Regions from separate parts of the Homo sapiens genome. Here region 1 is linked to region 2. Evidence: fine-mapped expression QTL. A gene starts in region 2. The other region holds a variant in brackets. All regions are shown on one strand. Distances are from middle to middle. Region 1 has its middle 110 kb from the start of UCHL1. Region 2 holds the start of LIMCH1 (LIM and calponin homology domains 1).

Region 1 (8,503 bases), 170 kb after region 2:
GAAGTAGTCAGTGTTCTGAATAGTTCATTTTAATTATTTCCTTCCTTCCCTTATCATCTGTGTGTTCTTGTATATTACCACATTTTTAATAAAATGTTAGTAACAATTGGTGGTAGCCTCTTTGGCATCCACTTTACCCATTCTTCTACTAAAAGTACCCAGATTTTCCTCTAGGGAATTCACTGCTTCTCTGTTGGGTAGCAGCCAGCATCTTTGATAGGGACGGACCAGGGTGAAGTCTGATTGGCTTAGGCTAATCAACTCATCTATTTCCCTGGTGATCATGAATGAGAATGTGTCCTCTTTCTCTGCCCAGAGGGTGTAAAGAGAACTTGAGGACTGGAGTCGCTCTTTCCCAGCCAGCCTTTAGTGGAAAAGCCTGGACCTTCTGAAGTGGGGTAGGGCAGGTGTGGAGGCCCTATGTAAAGCCAGAGCATAAAGCCACACAATGCACAGCACGGTGGAAAGAGAGAGAGAATCCAGATCCTTACTGATATCATTGAGCTGCTGAGTCAGCCTTTGTATGAAGTAGGGATCTACCTCCAGAACGTCAATGAGCAATCAACTGTCTATTTTTTAGAGCCAGTTTTGGTTGGATTTCTGTTGCTTGCAACCATAAGAATGCTAACTAAAACAAAAAAAAAAATTGAATGAAAAAAATTATTAAACACACACACAGAGTTTAAAATAAAATAAGAAATACATTTTTAAATATATCATACTACTTACAACTCTTGATGGAAGTTAAAAATGAGTGGCCTATCATGTCAGAGCAATACCAGGGTTCATCAGGCTGCTTGGGAACCAGAGTCCCCATGCATTAGAATGTGGGGTTTGGGAGATGCCTGGAGCACTCTTTCTATACAATCACTCTCCTTCCCAGGTGGCAAAACTGTCAAGGTGAGAGGACTTATTTTTGGAGTTTCTTTTAAAATACAGAAAACATGTCTAAAGCCAACACTGGCCTCCAGCATCCTTAGGCATCCCCTACCTCTACCCTCCTGCCCCCAGCTCTTTACTGCTGTTCCCCCTCATCAATATCCCTCACAGACACCCTTGGTCAACAGCCTGCATTTGCACCCTGTATTAGTCTGTTCTCACACTGCTATATAGAACTACCTGAGGCTGGGTAATTTATAAAGAAAAAAGGTTTAATTGGCTTACAGTCCTGCAGGCTCTACAGGAAGCATGGCTGGGGAGACTCAGGAAACTTACAATCATGGCAGAAGGGGAAGTAGGCATGTCCTGCATGGTAGGAACAGGAGGAAGAGAGAGCAGGGGGAGGTACTACACACTTTTAAACAACCAGATCCCGTGAGAGCTCCCTCACTATCTCAAGAACAGCAAGGGGGAAATTTGCCCCCATGATCCAGTCACCTCCCACCAGGCCCCTCCTCCAACATTGGGGATTACAATTCAACATGAGATTTGGGCAGGGACATAAATCCAAACCATATCACACCCCATAGCATGGTGGTTAGGAGCACAGGTAAAGCAGCCAGACTGCATGAGTTTGAAGATCAGCTCTACCACCTAATGACCGTAAAACCCTTAGCCATTCACTCATTTCTAGGTTTAATGGGAGTAATAAGAGTTTGTAGCTAGCTCATAGGATGGTTGAAAAGTCAGGTGCTTAGGACAGAATTTGCCAGGCCATAAGCTCTCATAAATGTTAGCTATGTTTCTATTCTTTTGTCAGGAACTATAGTAATTTGAGAGAGTTTGGAGAAAATCCAACTGCTGTCCTCCCAGACAAGGCCAGCCATGGCCCAGGCCGGGCCAAGAAGCACGGAGGATTCCTATCTTCGGTGCCAGGACCATGCAGCTTTCCTGCAGCCCACTCTAGCTTCATCCTGCACCTCCCTCATACCTACTCCCAAAGCTCCTGCCTTACTGGTCTTCTTCAGCTCTTCCATTAAGGCAAACACTACAGCCTGAAGTGTTTGCCTAGAACATGATTTCTTGCTCATTTTTGCATGGCCAACCCCTGCTCATCCTTGGGGTCTCAGCTTACATAGCACTTCCTCAGAGAGGCTGTCCCATTGCCCCTTAGACCAAAGGAGATCCCGGCCCTTTTTGTGTTCCAGACCAACTTGCTCTTCCCTTTCCAAGCATGCATCACACGCGTGATTCTGTGCTCAGCGTCCATCCTTCCAGGTGGAATGGAAATCTCACATTTGTCTCTCATACTACTGAGTCCCTAGGACACGCTCAATAACTATATGATGAATGAATGAATGATGTCCCAAACGGAGACAAATTGCCAATACTCATATACTGGTGTAGAAAGGGCTCCAGAGAACAGGAATAATCGCAGCCAAGAAGTCACTGACCCTCAGACAAATTGCCAACCCTCAAGTCTCAGTTTCCTCATTTCCAACTCACTTAAGCTTCTCACTCACAATAAGTAACTCCTGTAGGTTTCCTGGATGAAAACAGTGCTGCTTTATGTAGTACCCAGGCACAAAATCTCAAAGAAAAATGGATCAGAAAAACACACACACAGACAATATTCAACTACCTCCTCCAAAGGCAACAGAAGCTTCTCCTGGAAATGTTGTCCAAGGTCTTCTGATAGCAGATAGGAAATGTGAAATTCCTAAAGAAAACATTTTCCATATGACCCAAGATCCCAGGCTCCAGCACTGGGAATCTTCAAGGTATTGTTTTATGTATGCATCTGTGTGGGTAAGTGTGTGAGAGATACTATCTGCCCAAACTATTAATATCTATGTATTTCTACCATAAAACAGTATCCATATTCCTGTAAATGTATGAATAATGTCCCAAACTAAGACAGCCAGCCAAAAACCTTGTATCCTACAAAATCTCACACTAAAAATAACAGGGCTTGTGGAAAATACAGAGTTCATGTAAAAGGCCCAAACCCTACTCAACTTTGTAACCAGAGCAGTAACAAAAACAAGAACACTAAAAATTACCAGCACACATAAAAAGATGTTTTCTATTTCCTATTACAGAACAAACGGAAGATTACACAAAAAGGTGGGGGGCAAGAGCGCATGGTGGAAGGGTGTGAGGAAAGACCGAGACTGCTGCATTATGGAGATGAGAGGAAAATGCAGAAAGATCTGGGAAAAGCAGACGTTTCAATCAACACAAAGCCAAATGGAGTCTAGAGCAAAAAGAGGGGTGTTCACCTCCCTGGCTGGTTGTGTTCACCTCTACTATCCTATTTTGTTTTCAACTACTGCTATTTGGTGGTACAAAATACGCAAGTGTTAATAAAAATCTCACATGAACCATCGCAACTTGCACCTTACCAAGCATGCTTCTCTTATTTCCCAATCGCATATGTAATAATCCTCATTACAGAAACCGACATTATAAAATAGCCAACTATATTTGTTCAGAATGCCAGAGCCTGTGCCACATGAGAGGTCTAAGAGTGGAGCTGCTGTTGGGAGGTGCCAGATGAGGCCAAAAGAAGAACTATCATGTGGGCACTATGTGGGGACTCAGGAGCTACGTGGGATCAGGCCTGCCAGTCTTAACATGGGTGAAATTTATTGAAACAGGCACAGTAGAGAACTTCAAACTGGGACGGGGGCAGCAGATACCTGTGTTACACAAAGACTAAACAGAATACCATACGCAAAGAACTAACGGTGCCTGGCAGGGAGGCACCCTAAATCCACATTTTCCTTCCCCTTGTTTATAATCATTCCAGTCTGGATCTCAGCATCAAGGACTATTTGAATCCAGTGGGGGAGTCAGGTTCCAATCAAGGAGAAAAAGACTGGGGAAATAGACGTGAAGTGAAAGGGAGTAAAAATGGTTCCACCCACTGATGATGGTTCATTGGGCTCCTGTAATGATTTTTCATCATGGTCCTAACCACCCTACTGACAATTATCTTTTAAAACATATTGAAAGGGTTCCAGTTTCAGAGAATGTGCTTGGGAGCCATATGGATGAAATTGTTTCCTCGCAACTAACGGTGCTATGTATATAGAAGATGCTCAATAAACAGCATATTGAACCATTAAGGGAATGAAGAGAGAGAAGGAGAGAGGCAGGTCACCTGCTTGGTTAGGTAGTTACTTGGGACCATGATCTTTTTAGAAGTTTCGCTTTTACTTCTAAAGGGTCCCAAATACTAACTCTGCAAAGGTACTTTTTCCAATAAGTAAATATATACGGAGCAGCTGTTAAGGATAAGGCAGCGGGACACAGCAGTCACCAGTCCAAGCTCTGGAACCAGTTTGCCTGGGTTCAAATCCCAGCTCTGCCACTGATTATCTGTGTGGCTTCAAGCATATCACTTACCATTTCCGTGCTTCCATTTTCCCATCTGTAAAACGGCCATAAACAGTGCTTGCTTGAGAAGTATCTTATATATCAGGCACTGTGCTGGGTGTTTGTTCTATACACAATATACCACCTCATGCAAGCACCTACACTACCACTCAAGCAAGCTCCTAGACTACCGCTTGTACATGGTAAGTGTTCCAGAAGTGTGTTTGCTGTTATTTTTATTTGGCACTGAACTAGCCATTTTTATCACTATTATCACACTCTGTCAACTCTAACAGCATAATGAATCAGGCTTCTACTTGTCACTGGCCCCTCCTATTTATGACATCTTGCATGGTCCCTTAGGGAA[A/C]AAGGTGGCAACCTCATCTGTTGGCTGATGACAACATTCAGCTCCACAGGCAACTTTTTTTTTAATTTTCCATAGGAAAAGAAGAGGGGATGCTATTTCTCAGTGCTCCCATTGGGTCATGACAATTAACAGTCACAGCCGTGGCCATTTATTGATACCATGGATACCAGCTACTAGTCAGTTATTTTGGGTTTTTTTCCTTTAAAAATACCTGTCTAATAAGAACTCATACAGGTGACCACTATAATAAAAATTCTTCCATTTCTTTTTAGATTCACTATCATTGGAAGTGCTCTATCTTTCCCTCATCCTAAGAAGTGGGAATTAGCTAGACTTCTATAACAGGTGAAAGAGAGGTTTGCTTTGACTTAGGGAAAGAAAGAGAAGGTGAGAGCCCTAAGGCCGAATGCTGGGGGCATGTTTATTTAAAGAAAAGAGATGTCTGCTCTCCCGCCTTGCAGCCAGGAACTCCAACGAGCCCTGACCCAGTCTAACTTGAGGGGAGGGTTAGCACCCTAAAGAATATCTTCACCCAAGGGCCAACAGAGAAATCACCCTCCGAGTGTCCAATCACTGACTGTCTCCAGGCAACTATTGGGTAAACTGCTTTTTTTAATCACTACAAAACACACACACACACACACACTTTGCTTCCTGTCAGGGCAGCAACAGAGTCTATTTTCTCTGCCACAGCCAAGTCCAAGTGCCAATCAGGCAACCGTAGCTGGGCACAGACTCACTGAGAAAGCGCTCAGGCAGTGGGGAAATGTGGCTGTGAGGCCCTAGTGAGGAACAGCCTGGCTGAAACAAGGAGGGAACAGGGTGATGACTAAGACGCAGTCCTTGGCCACAGGGCTCTGGGGTTCACCAAAGGAGGCAAATCCCCCCACCACACACACACACAAAAAAAATTCGTGATAGTAAAATACAGCAACTTTTCTAAAAAAAAGGCAAAAACTGAGGCTCAGGTGTGTACAAAGAAGGGAAGGATTAATGAGCTTAGAGGAATCAGGGACCATGCTGCAGAGGCAGTCGGGTTTAAGCTCTATCTTGAAAGGATTTGTCCCTGGAGAAGTGGAGAAGGGGCATTCCAGGTTGTGGCTACCCCAATAGCCATTCTCCCCTTTTTCCTGAGGAATACAACTCAAGAATATTATCTGAGCATTACTCCTGCCTGGGGTAAAAGATCCTTCTCCAGAGTCTCTCCTATATACAGAAAGGGCCATGTTCCTGAAGTTCTGGGCAATAAAATAGTAGCCAGTATGTCAGAAAGGGTTTCCCAGAAGCCACCTTATATGGGAAGGATGCACTCTTCACTTTCCTTGCCTCCATCCAGCTTCCTGGAAAGGTGATGTGATCACGACTCTCCAGCAGCCATGTTAGACTGGGAAGATGGGGGAGGGGGTCTAAGAATGGTAGTTCAAGTGTTGAAAGGAATCTCAGTCAAGGACCTCCAGGGTTTACAATTTATGAGGATCCCAAAGGGCACCTGGCTTTAGTAGTTTATAAAGCCCCCTCTTTTGGAAGAATTTGGGAAAAGTTCCCAAATGAGAAGACATCTGTGGGTCACCACCCTAAGTCTCACACAAAATGGCTCTCTTCCCTCACTGAAAAGCAAGCAGGTTTCCCGCAGCCCCTTCCTGCTAAGAGTGGAGTACAGCCTCTACAGCCTCTATTTTGTCCAAGAATTTTAATCCAGAGTCTAGGCTCAAACACAAATCCCAAAGTCCTCTCCGCATTTTTCTTAGAAGAGTTCTTATCTGTGCCTCAGATGTAAAATGGACAGTGGATCATCATGCAAACTCTGAGTGGCCTGCAAGGAATATTCAAGAACTTCCGAGGCAGGTACCTTCACCCCCTGCCCTACCACCAACACATATCTACCTTCAATAGACCTAGAGAAATTTAAGAGTGTTTCTACCCTACCTTGTTTCAAAACACAATCATAATAAAAGTATGTGTAGCATCCAACGCAAGCCCTTTTCTCAATAAATCATCATCAATCAAATTCTCCTGCTTAGAATTCTTCCGTGGTCTTAGCTTAAATCTTATTTTCACTAAGAATCCTTGTCTTTTTAAAGAGTGCTTTTCTCTTAATCCCCCCTGCCCCATTCTTTGTCTTCATAGTATGTATTCCAAATCGTAATTATATATGTATTGTTTAATCTCTCTGTCCCCCTGCCACATTGTATATTTCATGAGGGCAGGAAGTATGTTTATTTTGTTCATTACCTAACACCATGCCTAACACTATGCTGCACATTGTTGGAGCTCAGTAAACACTTTTCAGGAAATAATTTTTGAAAGCACACTTTCACACATTAAAATATTAATGCTTATTTTTGCCACTGTTTATACTGAAGCAAACTTACAAATGAGTGATAGCCAAGTCTCCCAAATAATTATTTTCATATTTTAACAATTTGACTGAGCTTATTGTCGCTTTCATTCCATTTCAATTGGAATAAGATATTCAATTAAAATAAAATAATTGTTCAAAATATTTTTTAAACACTTCTGAGGGGAGAAAAAGATAGCTATGTACTCATTGCAATAAATATAACTTCAGTTCCTCACTTGGTGCAGACCCATTTGGTGAACATACTTGGCAAAAAAATAAGGCTGAGGAATTTTTTTTAACAGTTTTCAGTCATGGAAATGAAAAAGCTACAAGTCCTTCTGTTCTTGACCTTGATTTCTTTTTTTTTTTTTTTTTTTTATGATGGAGTCTCGCACTGCCGCCCAGGCTGGAGTGCAGTGGCGCGATTTTGGCTCACTGCAAGTTCCGCCTCCCAGGTTCACACCATTCTCCTGTTTCAGCGTTCCGAGTAGCTGGGACTACAGGTGCCTGCCACCACGCCCGGATGATTTTTCTTTCCTTTTTTTTTTTTTTTTTTTTTTGGATTTTTAGTAGAGACAGGGTTTCACTGTGTTAGCCAGAATGGTCTGGATCTCCAAACCTCATGATCCACCAGCCTTGGCCTCCCATAGTGCTGGGATTACAGGCGTGAGCCACCGCACCTAGCCGACCTTGATTTTAAAAGCAAGTGCAGGTGTATTCCTCCATGGCCTCCTAATGGGCTATCTAGGGGTGAATGGGTGGGGCAGTCCCTAACTTACACTGACCAGGAGGCCAAGCTGCAGCCTCCAACAGCCACACTAGAGTAACTCTCACAGGCAAAATGCAGGACAGTGGAAACATGGAGCTTTCCCAACCTAACCAATATTTTATTCTTAAGGTCTCAGCATAGAGCACAGTTTTGCTGACAGTGGGAAAAGGTATCAGCCAAGTTATTTCTTAGGTGCATTTTATATGACTATATCATCTGTCCTTTTCCTGATGCCAAAGGTAATTCCCTGAGATACACTAGCCATCCTGATATGGTTTGGCTCTGTGTCCCCACCCAAATCTCATCTCAAGTTGTAATCCCCACATGTCAGGACAGGGAGCCTGCAGGGAGATGACTGGATCACGGGGGCGGTTACCCCATGCTGTTCTCATGATGGTGAGTGAGTTCTCATGAGAGCTAATGGTTTTAAAAGCATTTGGCAGTTCCCTCTTCGCTTGCTCTCTCTCTCCTGCCACCATATGAGACCTGTCTTGCTTCCCCTTTGCCTTCCATCATAATTATAAGTTTCTTGAGGCCTCCCCAGCCACGTGGAACTGTAAGTCAGTTAAACCTCCTTTCTTTATAAATTACCCAGTCTCAGGTCGTATCTTTATGGCAGTATGTAAATGAACTAATACACATCCCATCAGGGTTAGATGCATGGGCATCTCTTTGGAAGTGTTGTTTTCAATATTGCAAACATGGAATTTTATCACAGCAGAACTGAATTCCACGGCATCATTCCTCCTTGAAATATAACATCTTA
Region 2 (8,503 bases):
AGAGCGACTTTTCAAGTTGTGTCCTTTATGGTATTTGCAGGGAAAGGGCCAACAATAGCCAAGGGGCTGTTTACCAAAGTCATTCTCCAGCACCTCCCACAGAAACGCTTGTGGAAATCACTGCCAAAGCTTACATGGGAATCAAACAGAAGGAACTGAGCACAGCCATGTAAAACATGCCCCAGTCATTTCGTAAGCTCTGTTTCTTCACAGATGGCTGCTGTGGAAGAAATGACTGCTTACAGAAAGCAGAGATCCAAAAATTAATCCAGCCACTGGGATGAAAGCAGGATGAAAAATGATCCTGTTCTATAATTCACATTGGTGATTTACCAGGTCTGGGCTATAAGACATCTAGGGATAAAACTGCTACTCAAAAGCAGATCTGGCAAAGGTGAGGAAACGGTGTGAAGGGCAGGTACTGCTGAAGATCTCTAGAGTCAAAAAAGGATTCACCAAATTAAAATAGAATGTTTCACAGACCAGTAAAGCCAGATGGGAGTTGGTAGCTCATACATATCCTTGTATTTCCAAGAGATGGGAGACTCCAGACTCTGAAAGGGACCAAACACAAGCTCACCTGCTGCGGCAGTACCCAGAGCTGAAAAGAGAGGATGCCAAAGGAATCCAGCCTTCCCGAATCTACACTCTCAAGGCTGGGCTTTGGGACTCTAAGGGTCTAATAAGCTATGGCTCTTATTTTATATCATTACAACAACTGCTTTGGTTCCTTCATTCTTTCACTACTTACCTGTGCTTCTTTACATTTCACAGGTTGATGATACATTACTGCTTTGGATTTCCCTTCAGTTTCATGGTTCAATCCAATGCCCACGTCTACATTTCTTTCACTGCCTTTATACTGCTGTACAGTTAGACTTCATCTGCTACTCCACACACACACAAATCTCTCCCTACTTCCTCACTCCTCATTTCCTGTTGGGAGCTAAGTTTAAAGCTTCATCCTTCTAGATCTACTCAACATTCCTTTTTAAAAGGTAGAGAACAAGGAACGTAGCAGCTGTGTTCGCTGAGCCATTGAATTCACACTGCCCAGCAGCCCTTGAAAGTCAACTGCAGCGTCCATCAGGGCAAGGACTGACAGTTTGTTTCAACACTGAATATGGTTAGTACCTGGCAAGGAGCAGGAGTTCAATAACTCTTGGCAATAATTCGTCATCATTTTCCCCCTGAAATCCATTTTATTATTCTTTTTTTTTCTTTTCAGGCTAGAGTGCAGTGGTGCGATCTCAGCTCACTGTAACCTCCACCTCCCGGGTTCAAGCGATTCTCCTGCCTCAGCCTCCTGAATAGCTGGGATTACAGGTGCCCATCACCACACCCGGCTAACTTTTGTATTTTTAGTAGAGATAGAGTTTCGCCACGTTGGCCAGGCTGGTCTCGAACGCCTGATCTCAGGTGATCCACCTGCCTCAGCCTCCCAAAGTGCTAGGATTACAGGCGTAAGCCACTGCATCTGGCCCGTTTTATTCTTTTATTCTCAAATTATTCTCTCTACAGGACAAGAGAAGGTTTAAAAATCACTGAATCATGATTTTAGGGAAATATTCAACCTAAAAGGCAGGGCCAAAATCTCAAAGGGTCCCAAATTTATCCCAACAGCCAAAGTTCCTCCTCCTCCTCTTTCTCCTTCTTTTCCTACTCCTGTTTTTCTTCTTCTTCATATCTTGAACCACATGACAAGAAAAAAAAATCTAGACTCTTTACCTATATTAATTAATTTACTCTTCATGAAAACCACATAAGGTAGTTACTATATTATGTCCATTTTTACAGACGAGGAAACAAACGATTGTGTTGCCTGCCAAAGATCAGCACACAACTGAGAAGCTGCAAATCCAGGATTTGAACTCAGGCCATCTCACTCTAGAATGTCAGCTCCTAGCTGCCCTGCATACTATGTCCTGAAGGAGAGCTCTTAAGAAGGCCAACTGAAGCCTATGGGGAACAGTATCCTGGTCATTCATTTCCCAAATTGTTATTGAGTGTCTACTATATACCAGGTGCAGGGAATACCCCCAACAGCCATGGTCACTGTTCCTGTCTAGTCAACATTCCTGTTGCTTTCCTAATTGCCATTTGTTATAGCTCCCAGAGAGTAAGCATGCTGAATCCATTAGAAAAGGAAACTCAAGAGTGAGTTCTTCTTCCATATCTTTATCCTTTAAACTTTATTATAGAGAACAATTGCCACTCCTCTCAGCATTAGTTGGGACTCCAGCAAGAACCAGCTAGGACTATGTATCAGCCTGGAATGCATAGTTACAGAACTAAATGGAAATGGGAAAATGAATACAACGGTGTTAGGAAGTCCCTCTCTGCCCGATGATTAGATTGAGGAGATGTATTGGCAGCTGTAAGGAGGGTGGCTTATTCTTGCCCCTTCTTCCCTTGGGAAGGTCTTCAAAATTGGAGGAGTTATGGCTGCCCAGTCACCTTCTAGTCACCTTACAGAGAGAGCAGGAGAGCAGAGTGGCACATACCCTCAGGCAGGATTCCTGAGTCAAAGGCTGGCTGCTGACACTTGCAGCCTCTCGGTTTTATTTGACCTTCACCTTGTGCGGAACCCACCCGCGCAGCACAGGACAAACCCCTTCTCCCGGGACTGCTGAATCAGCCACTCTGGGAGTGGCAGGAGAGAAGTTTCAGACTCCTGAGACATTTGGTCTATTCAGCACCATGAAGAAAACGGCTGTAGCTCAGTGAGAGAATCACAATCAGGAGCTGGCTGAATAAAGGTGATAAAAATAGATTTCCCGACTCCACAAAGATGAATCATTTTGCCATAGGGATTCGCCAGGCTCTGTTTCAACCTGATTTTCAACCCAGCCTCATAAATTTGGCTAAGGAAAATTTTCTTCCCCTAGATAACCAGTGCCATGGAACGTTTAGCATTCAGACGGGTCTGACGGGATTTTATGAGACAATTGTCCAGAAATAACCCCCATTCCTTTCCCGGCCTGCAGTAAATAGTGACTATGAAGGACAAGGACTAAGTGGGCAAGGCTGGAGATGCAGCCCTTCCCTCCAGACTCCTCCCTGCCTCCCCAATGTCTTCCTTGCTTCTTTTCCTCCTCATTTTAAGAAATGGAAGTTTTTAAAAAGCAAAGGGGGCTGTGGAGTCAGGAGCAGAATGTGACAGGGGCTCAGGTGAAGCAGCCCCACCATGAATGCAGCCACATCTCCCCCACAACACCATGTGCTGCTGGACCACATCTTAAAAATGCAGCCAAGTTGCTTCTCATTCTCAAAATTCTCAAAAATCCTTTTTATTTTGACTAAACTAATGGAGTTATGTGTCTTGTACCACATACCGGAAAATAAAAAACAATGCTTTCCTTAGGGAATTAAAAAAAAAAAAAAGCTTAATTAAAAGCAACAGGTGCTAACAGTTATCAAAGGACAAGATGAATCCACAGGAAAGTAATTTTCATATTATTTTCGCCATACTAATAAGTGAATAAAAAGTCACTTTTTTTTAAACCAAGTATTAAAGTCTAAATAGCTTCCTTCTTTCCATCATGGATACCCCTAAGCATGTATTTCTTTTATAATGAATTTTACTTACCCCCACACGTCCTCATGCTCCGCAATGAACTCCAGCCAACCCACTCTGGGAGATGGGAGGGGCATCTCTCCTGTGTGCTCCTCGTCAGCCCCAGCACAGCAGCCGAAATGCCCTTACATTTCCTTTCCCAAAACAGTCGTCACCACTGCCAACCCCTGCTCTGTCCACAAGCAGGCTGCTGCGGCTGAAATGCTGATGCAGTGAAAGGGAACTGGAAGACAGCTGATTGCCACACCTATTGGAGAGGGAGGCGGAGAAGCCCATTCCCTCTGAGGAAAAGGAATGGCATCTTCAGAAGTAGAGATGCCAGGATTGGAATTGTGCAGAGAGCTTTGTGTCAGCCACTAGCACACAGTAGGTTTGCAGTACTGTCAGGAAATCTGGATCTAGAAAAAGCACCCAAGTGGGACCCGAGGAACAAAGACTCACTCCAGTCCCAACTCTGGAACAAAGTTGCTGCCTGACTCCAGGCAAGTCACTGCCTTCTGGTCTCAGTTTCCTTATTTGTAAAATAACAATGTTTCAAAAAGTAAATCTCTAAGTGGCTTCTAGTTCTGGGATTCTAAGACCATCCTAATGTTCATGAGCATAATAAAAAGTAAACTACCATTTATTGAAAACATCCTGTGTACCATCCATCATATTAGGTATTTTATGTATATCATCTCATTTAATCCCACAATGCTGAGATGGGATTTATCAACCCCATCTTATAGATGAGGAAACTGGCAAACTCACTCCATGAATCCCCATGAAAAAAAAGGATCATCATATTCCTTCAGTGTTTTGAATTTAAATGGAGGCATTCAATCTTTGTGCCTGAAATTGAGATGACATCTGAGAATGGAATTTCTGCACTGCTGGGAGATTAATGTGTTTACAGTCCTCTGCTGGTATAATTCTGAGGTACTAGTATTTATGGTTATGGCTGTTCATGCTACTGCAAAATCCATTTTCCACCTGTTGCTTTTTATTAAACCTCCCTAAAGGACATGAACTATTTCTTTCTGCAGATTCTAAAAGCAGGATGCTGAAATATGTGAGCAGAAGCATCGTGTGCGGAGTTACCATTTGGAATTTTCAAATGCTATAAAACACAATGTTTACAACCAATTCATCATTTATAAAAGTTTATTGGATTAATATGCCAATGGACTCACTGGTATCCTGCCATTTATTGACACAAATACATCAAGTGGTAGGCTGACATTTAATATTTATTAATAACTTCTGTATTTCCTTACCTATTTCATAGTTTCCTTGCATTATGCTCTTTTATCTTTATTGTCATTCATCCTACTTTAAGTGAACTTTTTATTTTAGAATAGTTTTTAGATTTATAGAAAGCTACAAAGATAATATGCAGAGTTTCAGTATAACTCATGTCTTACATCTTACATTCCTATGGTACATCTACATTTATCACAGTTAAGAAATAAACACTGGTACACTACTATTAACTAAATCCATGTTTTATTTGGATTTCATTAGTTTTTCCCTAATATGCTCTTTCTGTTTTAAGATCCCATCTATAATGCCATATAATATTTAATCATTATGTCTCCTTAACTTTTTCTGGACTTTCCTTGTTTCTCAGATATGCCTTGCTTTTGATGGCCTTGACAGTTTTGAAGAATACTGGTCGGGTATTTTGTAGAATATCCTTCCATTTAGGTTTGTCTGATATTCTTTCCATGGCTGGGGATATAGGTTTTTGTGAGGAAAAAGTACCATTCTTTTAACACTGAGGGAAAAGAGGAAAAGTACCATTCCTATATAACATTATATCAATCATCCTATTTTTAATGTTATGTTTAAGTTAAATCAAAAACTTAAACTGAATATAGTTAAATTTTAGAAAGGAAAAATTAGATATCAAACTACTCAGAAATCTAGTATTTTATACTGTGGACAGAGCGACAGAGAGGAATTAATTTTTGTACCATTTGAGATGAAGGTAGACCTAACATTCTAGCAGAAAGCCAGCTAATTACAAGAGAGGCGTCTAGCGAGTTCTTTTGAAATGCTTGCCAAGACAAACTTCCTACAAAAACAATCCAGAGGAAGGCACGTTTTAAGAGAAGTGCTGTTTCAGCCTAGCATGGTCTCATACTTCATACATTTGGTGGTATTTTTTTCCTGTTGTCAAACAACCAAATCCCTATAAACCTGGGTTTGGAATACATGCTAAGAATTAGTTCCACAGAAAGTTATCCTCTAGGTAAGCTATAACTATGGAAAAAAAGGAGTCAGACGTCAGCTGAAATATGTATTTCCTGCTATTATATATTTTTTGCTCACAGTTTGTAATTGAAGGTCTATTCCTAAGGGAAAAAAGTGAGGAACTGATGTAATGTCACAAATTCTGCTAAACGCTGTTCAACGAAAGATAAGGGAGAACAAGTGGTTTCTTTCTTCAAAGAATGGCATTTTTTGTTTTTTCGGGAACAGGAAAGGGAAAAAAAAATGAAGTTGGGGAAAAAAAAGCTTTACAGCACTGCTATATATAACCTTCCACCTCTGCAGAGACACAGAATAATTATGGAAACAAATTTGGAAAAATAGTTTGTGGTGGTGCAGAAAGAGGATATTAGACTTCAGCTAGCAAGTCTAGGCATTCAAAACACACGTGAATAAGAATTTAAGGGCTTAGCTGGCTAACCCACTGTTACGAGCTAAATTGTCTCCTCCTCCCTCCCCCAATTCGTATCTTGAACTCCTAACCCGTTCTAACTCAGAATGTGACTGTAGTGACTGTAAGAAGGTAATTAAGTTATATGAGGTCATCTGAGGGGGCCCTAATCCAATACGACAGTGTCCTTATAAAAAGGCAAAATATGGACACAGATACATACAGGGGAAAGACCACGTGAAGATGCAGGGAAAGGCAGCCATCTGGGAGCCAAGGAGACAGGCCTTAGAACAAACCCACTCTGATCACACCTTGATCTCAGACTTCTAACCTACAGAATTGACAAAATAAATTTCTATTATTTAAGCCATCCAATCTGTGGTACTTTGTTATGGCCATCAGAGCAAATTAATATACTCATCTAGTACTAAGAATGAAATATCAGGGGTATAAGAGAGGCTGCAGGGCACAAGATTGGATGGATATGATATCTCAATGAATTGTCAATTATATGAAGATCTTTCTTTTCTTTTCTTTTTTTTTTTTTTTTTTTTTTGTGACAGGGTCCGACTCCCATCACCCAGGCTGGAGTCCAGTGGCACATTCAAAGCTCACTGCAGGCTTGACTTCCCAGGCCCAGGTGATTCTCCTACCTCAGCCTCCTAAGTAGCTGGGACTACAGGCATGCACAACCATGCCTGGCTAATTTTTTGTATTTTTAGTAAAGACAAGATTTTGCCATGTTGCCTAGGCTGGTCTTGAACTCCTGGGCTCAAGCGATCACCTGCCTTAGGCTCCCAAAGTTCTGGGATTATAGGCATGAGCCACTGCACCGGTCTTTCTGTCATGATTTTCAATTCTAAGTGCAATTGCTAATGACTTTTCCTGTAGTCTCAAACTCCTTTTTTCACTCCTTTCTCCATATCCCAGTCCCTGCCAATGTGGATCAAACACTCCAAAGACAATACTATAATTTGGAGGGGGAGGGGAACTTCATAGTGGTTATAGAAAAAAAAAATATGTCTTCATTTATACTGAAGCATAGGATTTAACTTCAAAATAGTCCATCCATTAACCTAGTCCAATTTTTTGTAACTTTTTCCTTGAGTTCCAAACCAGCATTTCTAATAGTCTGCCAGACATCTGCACATGAATATCTTTTAGAGATAGCCAACTCAATATGTCCAAAAGAGAATGCATCTTTTCTTTTGGAGCTCATTTCTCATTCCCATGTTCCCATGATTCCTATTAATGGCATCAGTACCCTCCACACTGCTCAAGTCCAAAATGCAAATGTCATCTTCCTAAAATTATCTGTTGTATTTCATCAGTTCTAAGATGTACACCTTTTTTAACCTCTGAAATAAAGATGCATTTTTTTCATTGCCAGTGTCTTAGCATTGTGTCATCATTGAATTGGCAGCTTTTTTAAATGAGCTATAATTTTTAAAAATGGTGTGTGTCATCATTGATGGCATATTACATTTAGTGAAAAGTAAATCCTGTCTCCTCATCTCTAATCCCACTGCTTCTACTAAGGTTTAAGTGTCCATCCTCTCTCATTTGGACTACTTATCTCCTACTTGACTTTTATTGCTGGTATCTTGCCATAATCAGCTTTCTATACGGCCACCTCAGTTATCTGGAACACGAGATTCCCTTGTTTTCAGTGGCTTTTACTGCACACAAAATGAGTCCAAACACCCCCAGATGGCATTTCTGGTCTCAGCTTACTATTCCTGGTCTAGTTTCCAAGCATGGATTTTCTCAGGGACTCTGCGTCCAGCTGCAGCCACTGGACCCAGTGCAAATAATGCAAATGATAGCCACTTCCAGATAAGACCCAGGTCCTTCTGACTCAGAGCCTTTCTCATTCCATGCCCTGAAGCTAGTTGTTCTTCCTCTAACTCCATGATCTTCACTATTTGTAGACGCCCTGTTCAAATCCCACCCCTTCCAAAGTTCTTAATCACAAATCAAAATTTCTTCCTTGGTCTTTCTTGCATATTATACTTCATTAACATTTCACAGTCTACCTTACATTTGACCTTTCTTCTATATTTGTCTTCTAGAAAGTAGTCTCCTAAAAGGCAGGAATTATGTCTTGAAGTGGATTTTTACTTGGAAGGCAAGAGAGAGAACACATCATCTCTATTTGGTATATATGTGCAGAAGAAAATTAGAAAAAAGTCCTTGGATGTCATGCAAGAAAGGTTAACCAAGGAAAACTGTGTTATCTTTAAAGTCCTATAAGCACAAGGAGCCGGTGTTCAGGAGAATGA

The links. PIP is the estimated chance that this variant, and not a neighbour inherited with it, causes the effect.
Region 1: its variant is fine-mapped to the expression of LIMCH1 in sun-exposed skin (GTEx, PIP 0.91).

What each region holds. Positions count from the first base shown.
Region 1 is chr4:41,366,710-41,375,212 of GRCh38, reverse strand. It overlaps a transcript of LIMCH1 not described here. Among named protein-coding and RNA genes, the nearest start is that of UCHL1, 110 kb to the right of the region's middle. The variant A/C (reference allele first, on the strand shown) is at 4,628.
Region 2 is chr4:41,533,437-41,541,939 of GRCh38, reverse strand. LIMCH1 (LIM and calponin homology domains 1) reads right to left here and starts at 3,783. Exons shown (of 32, transcript NM_001330672.2): 1 at 3,590-3,783.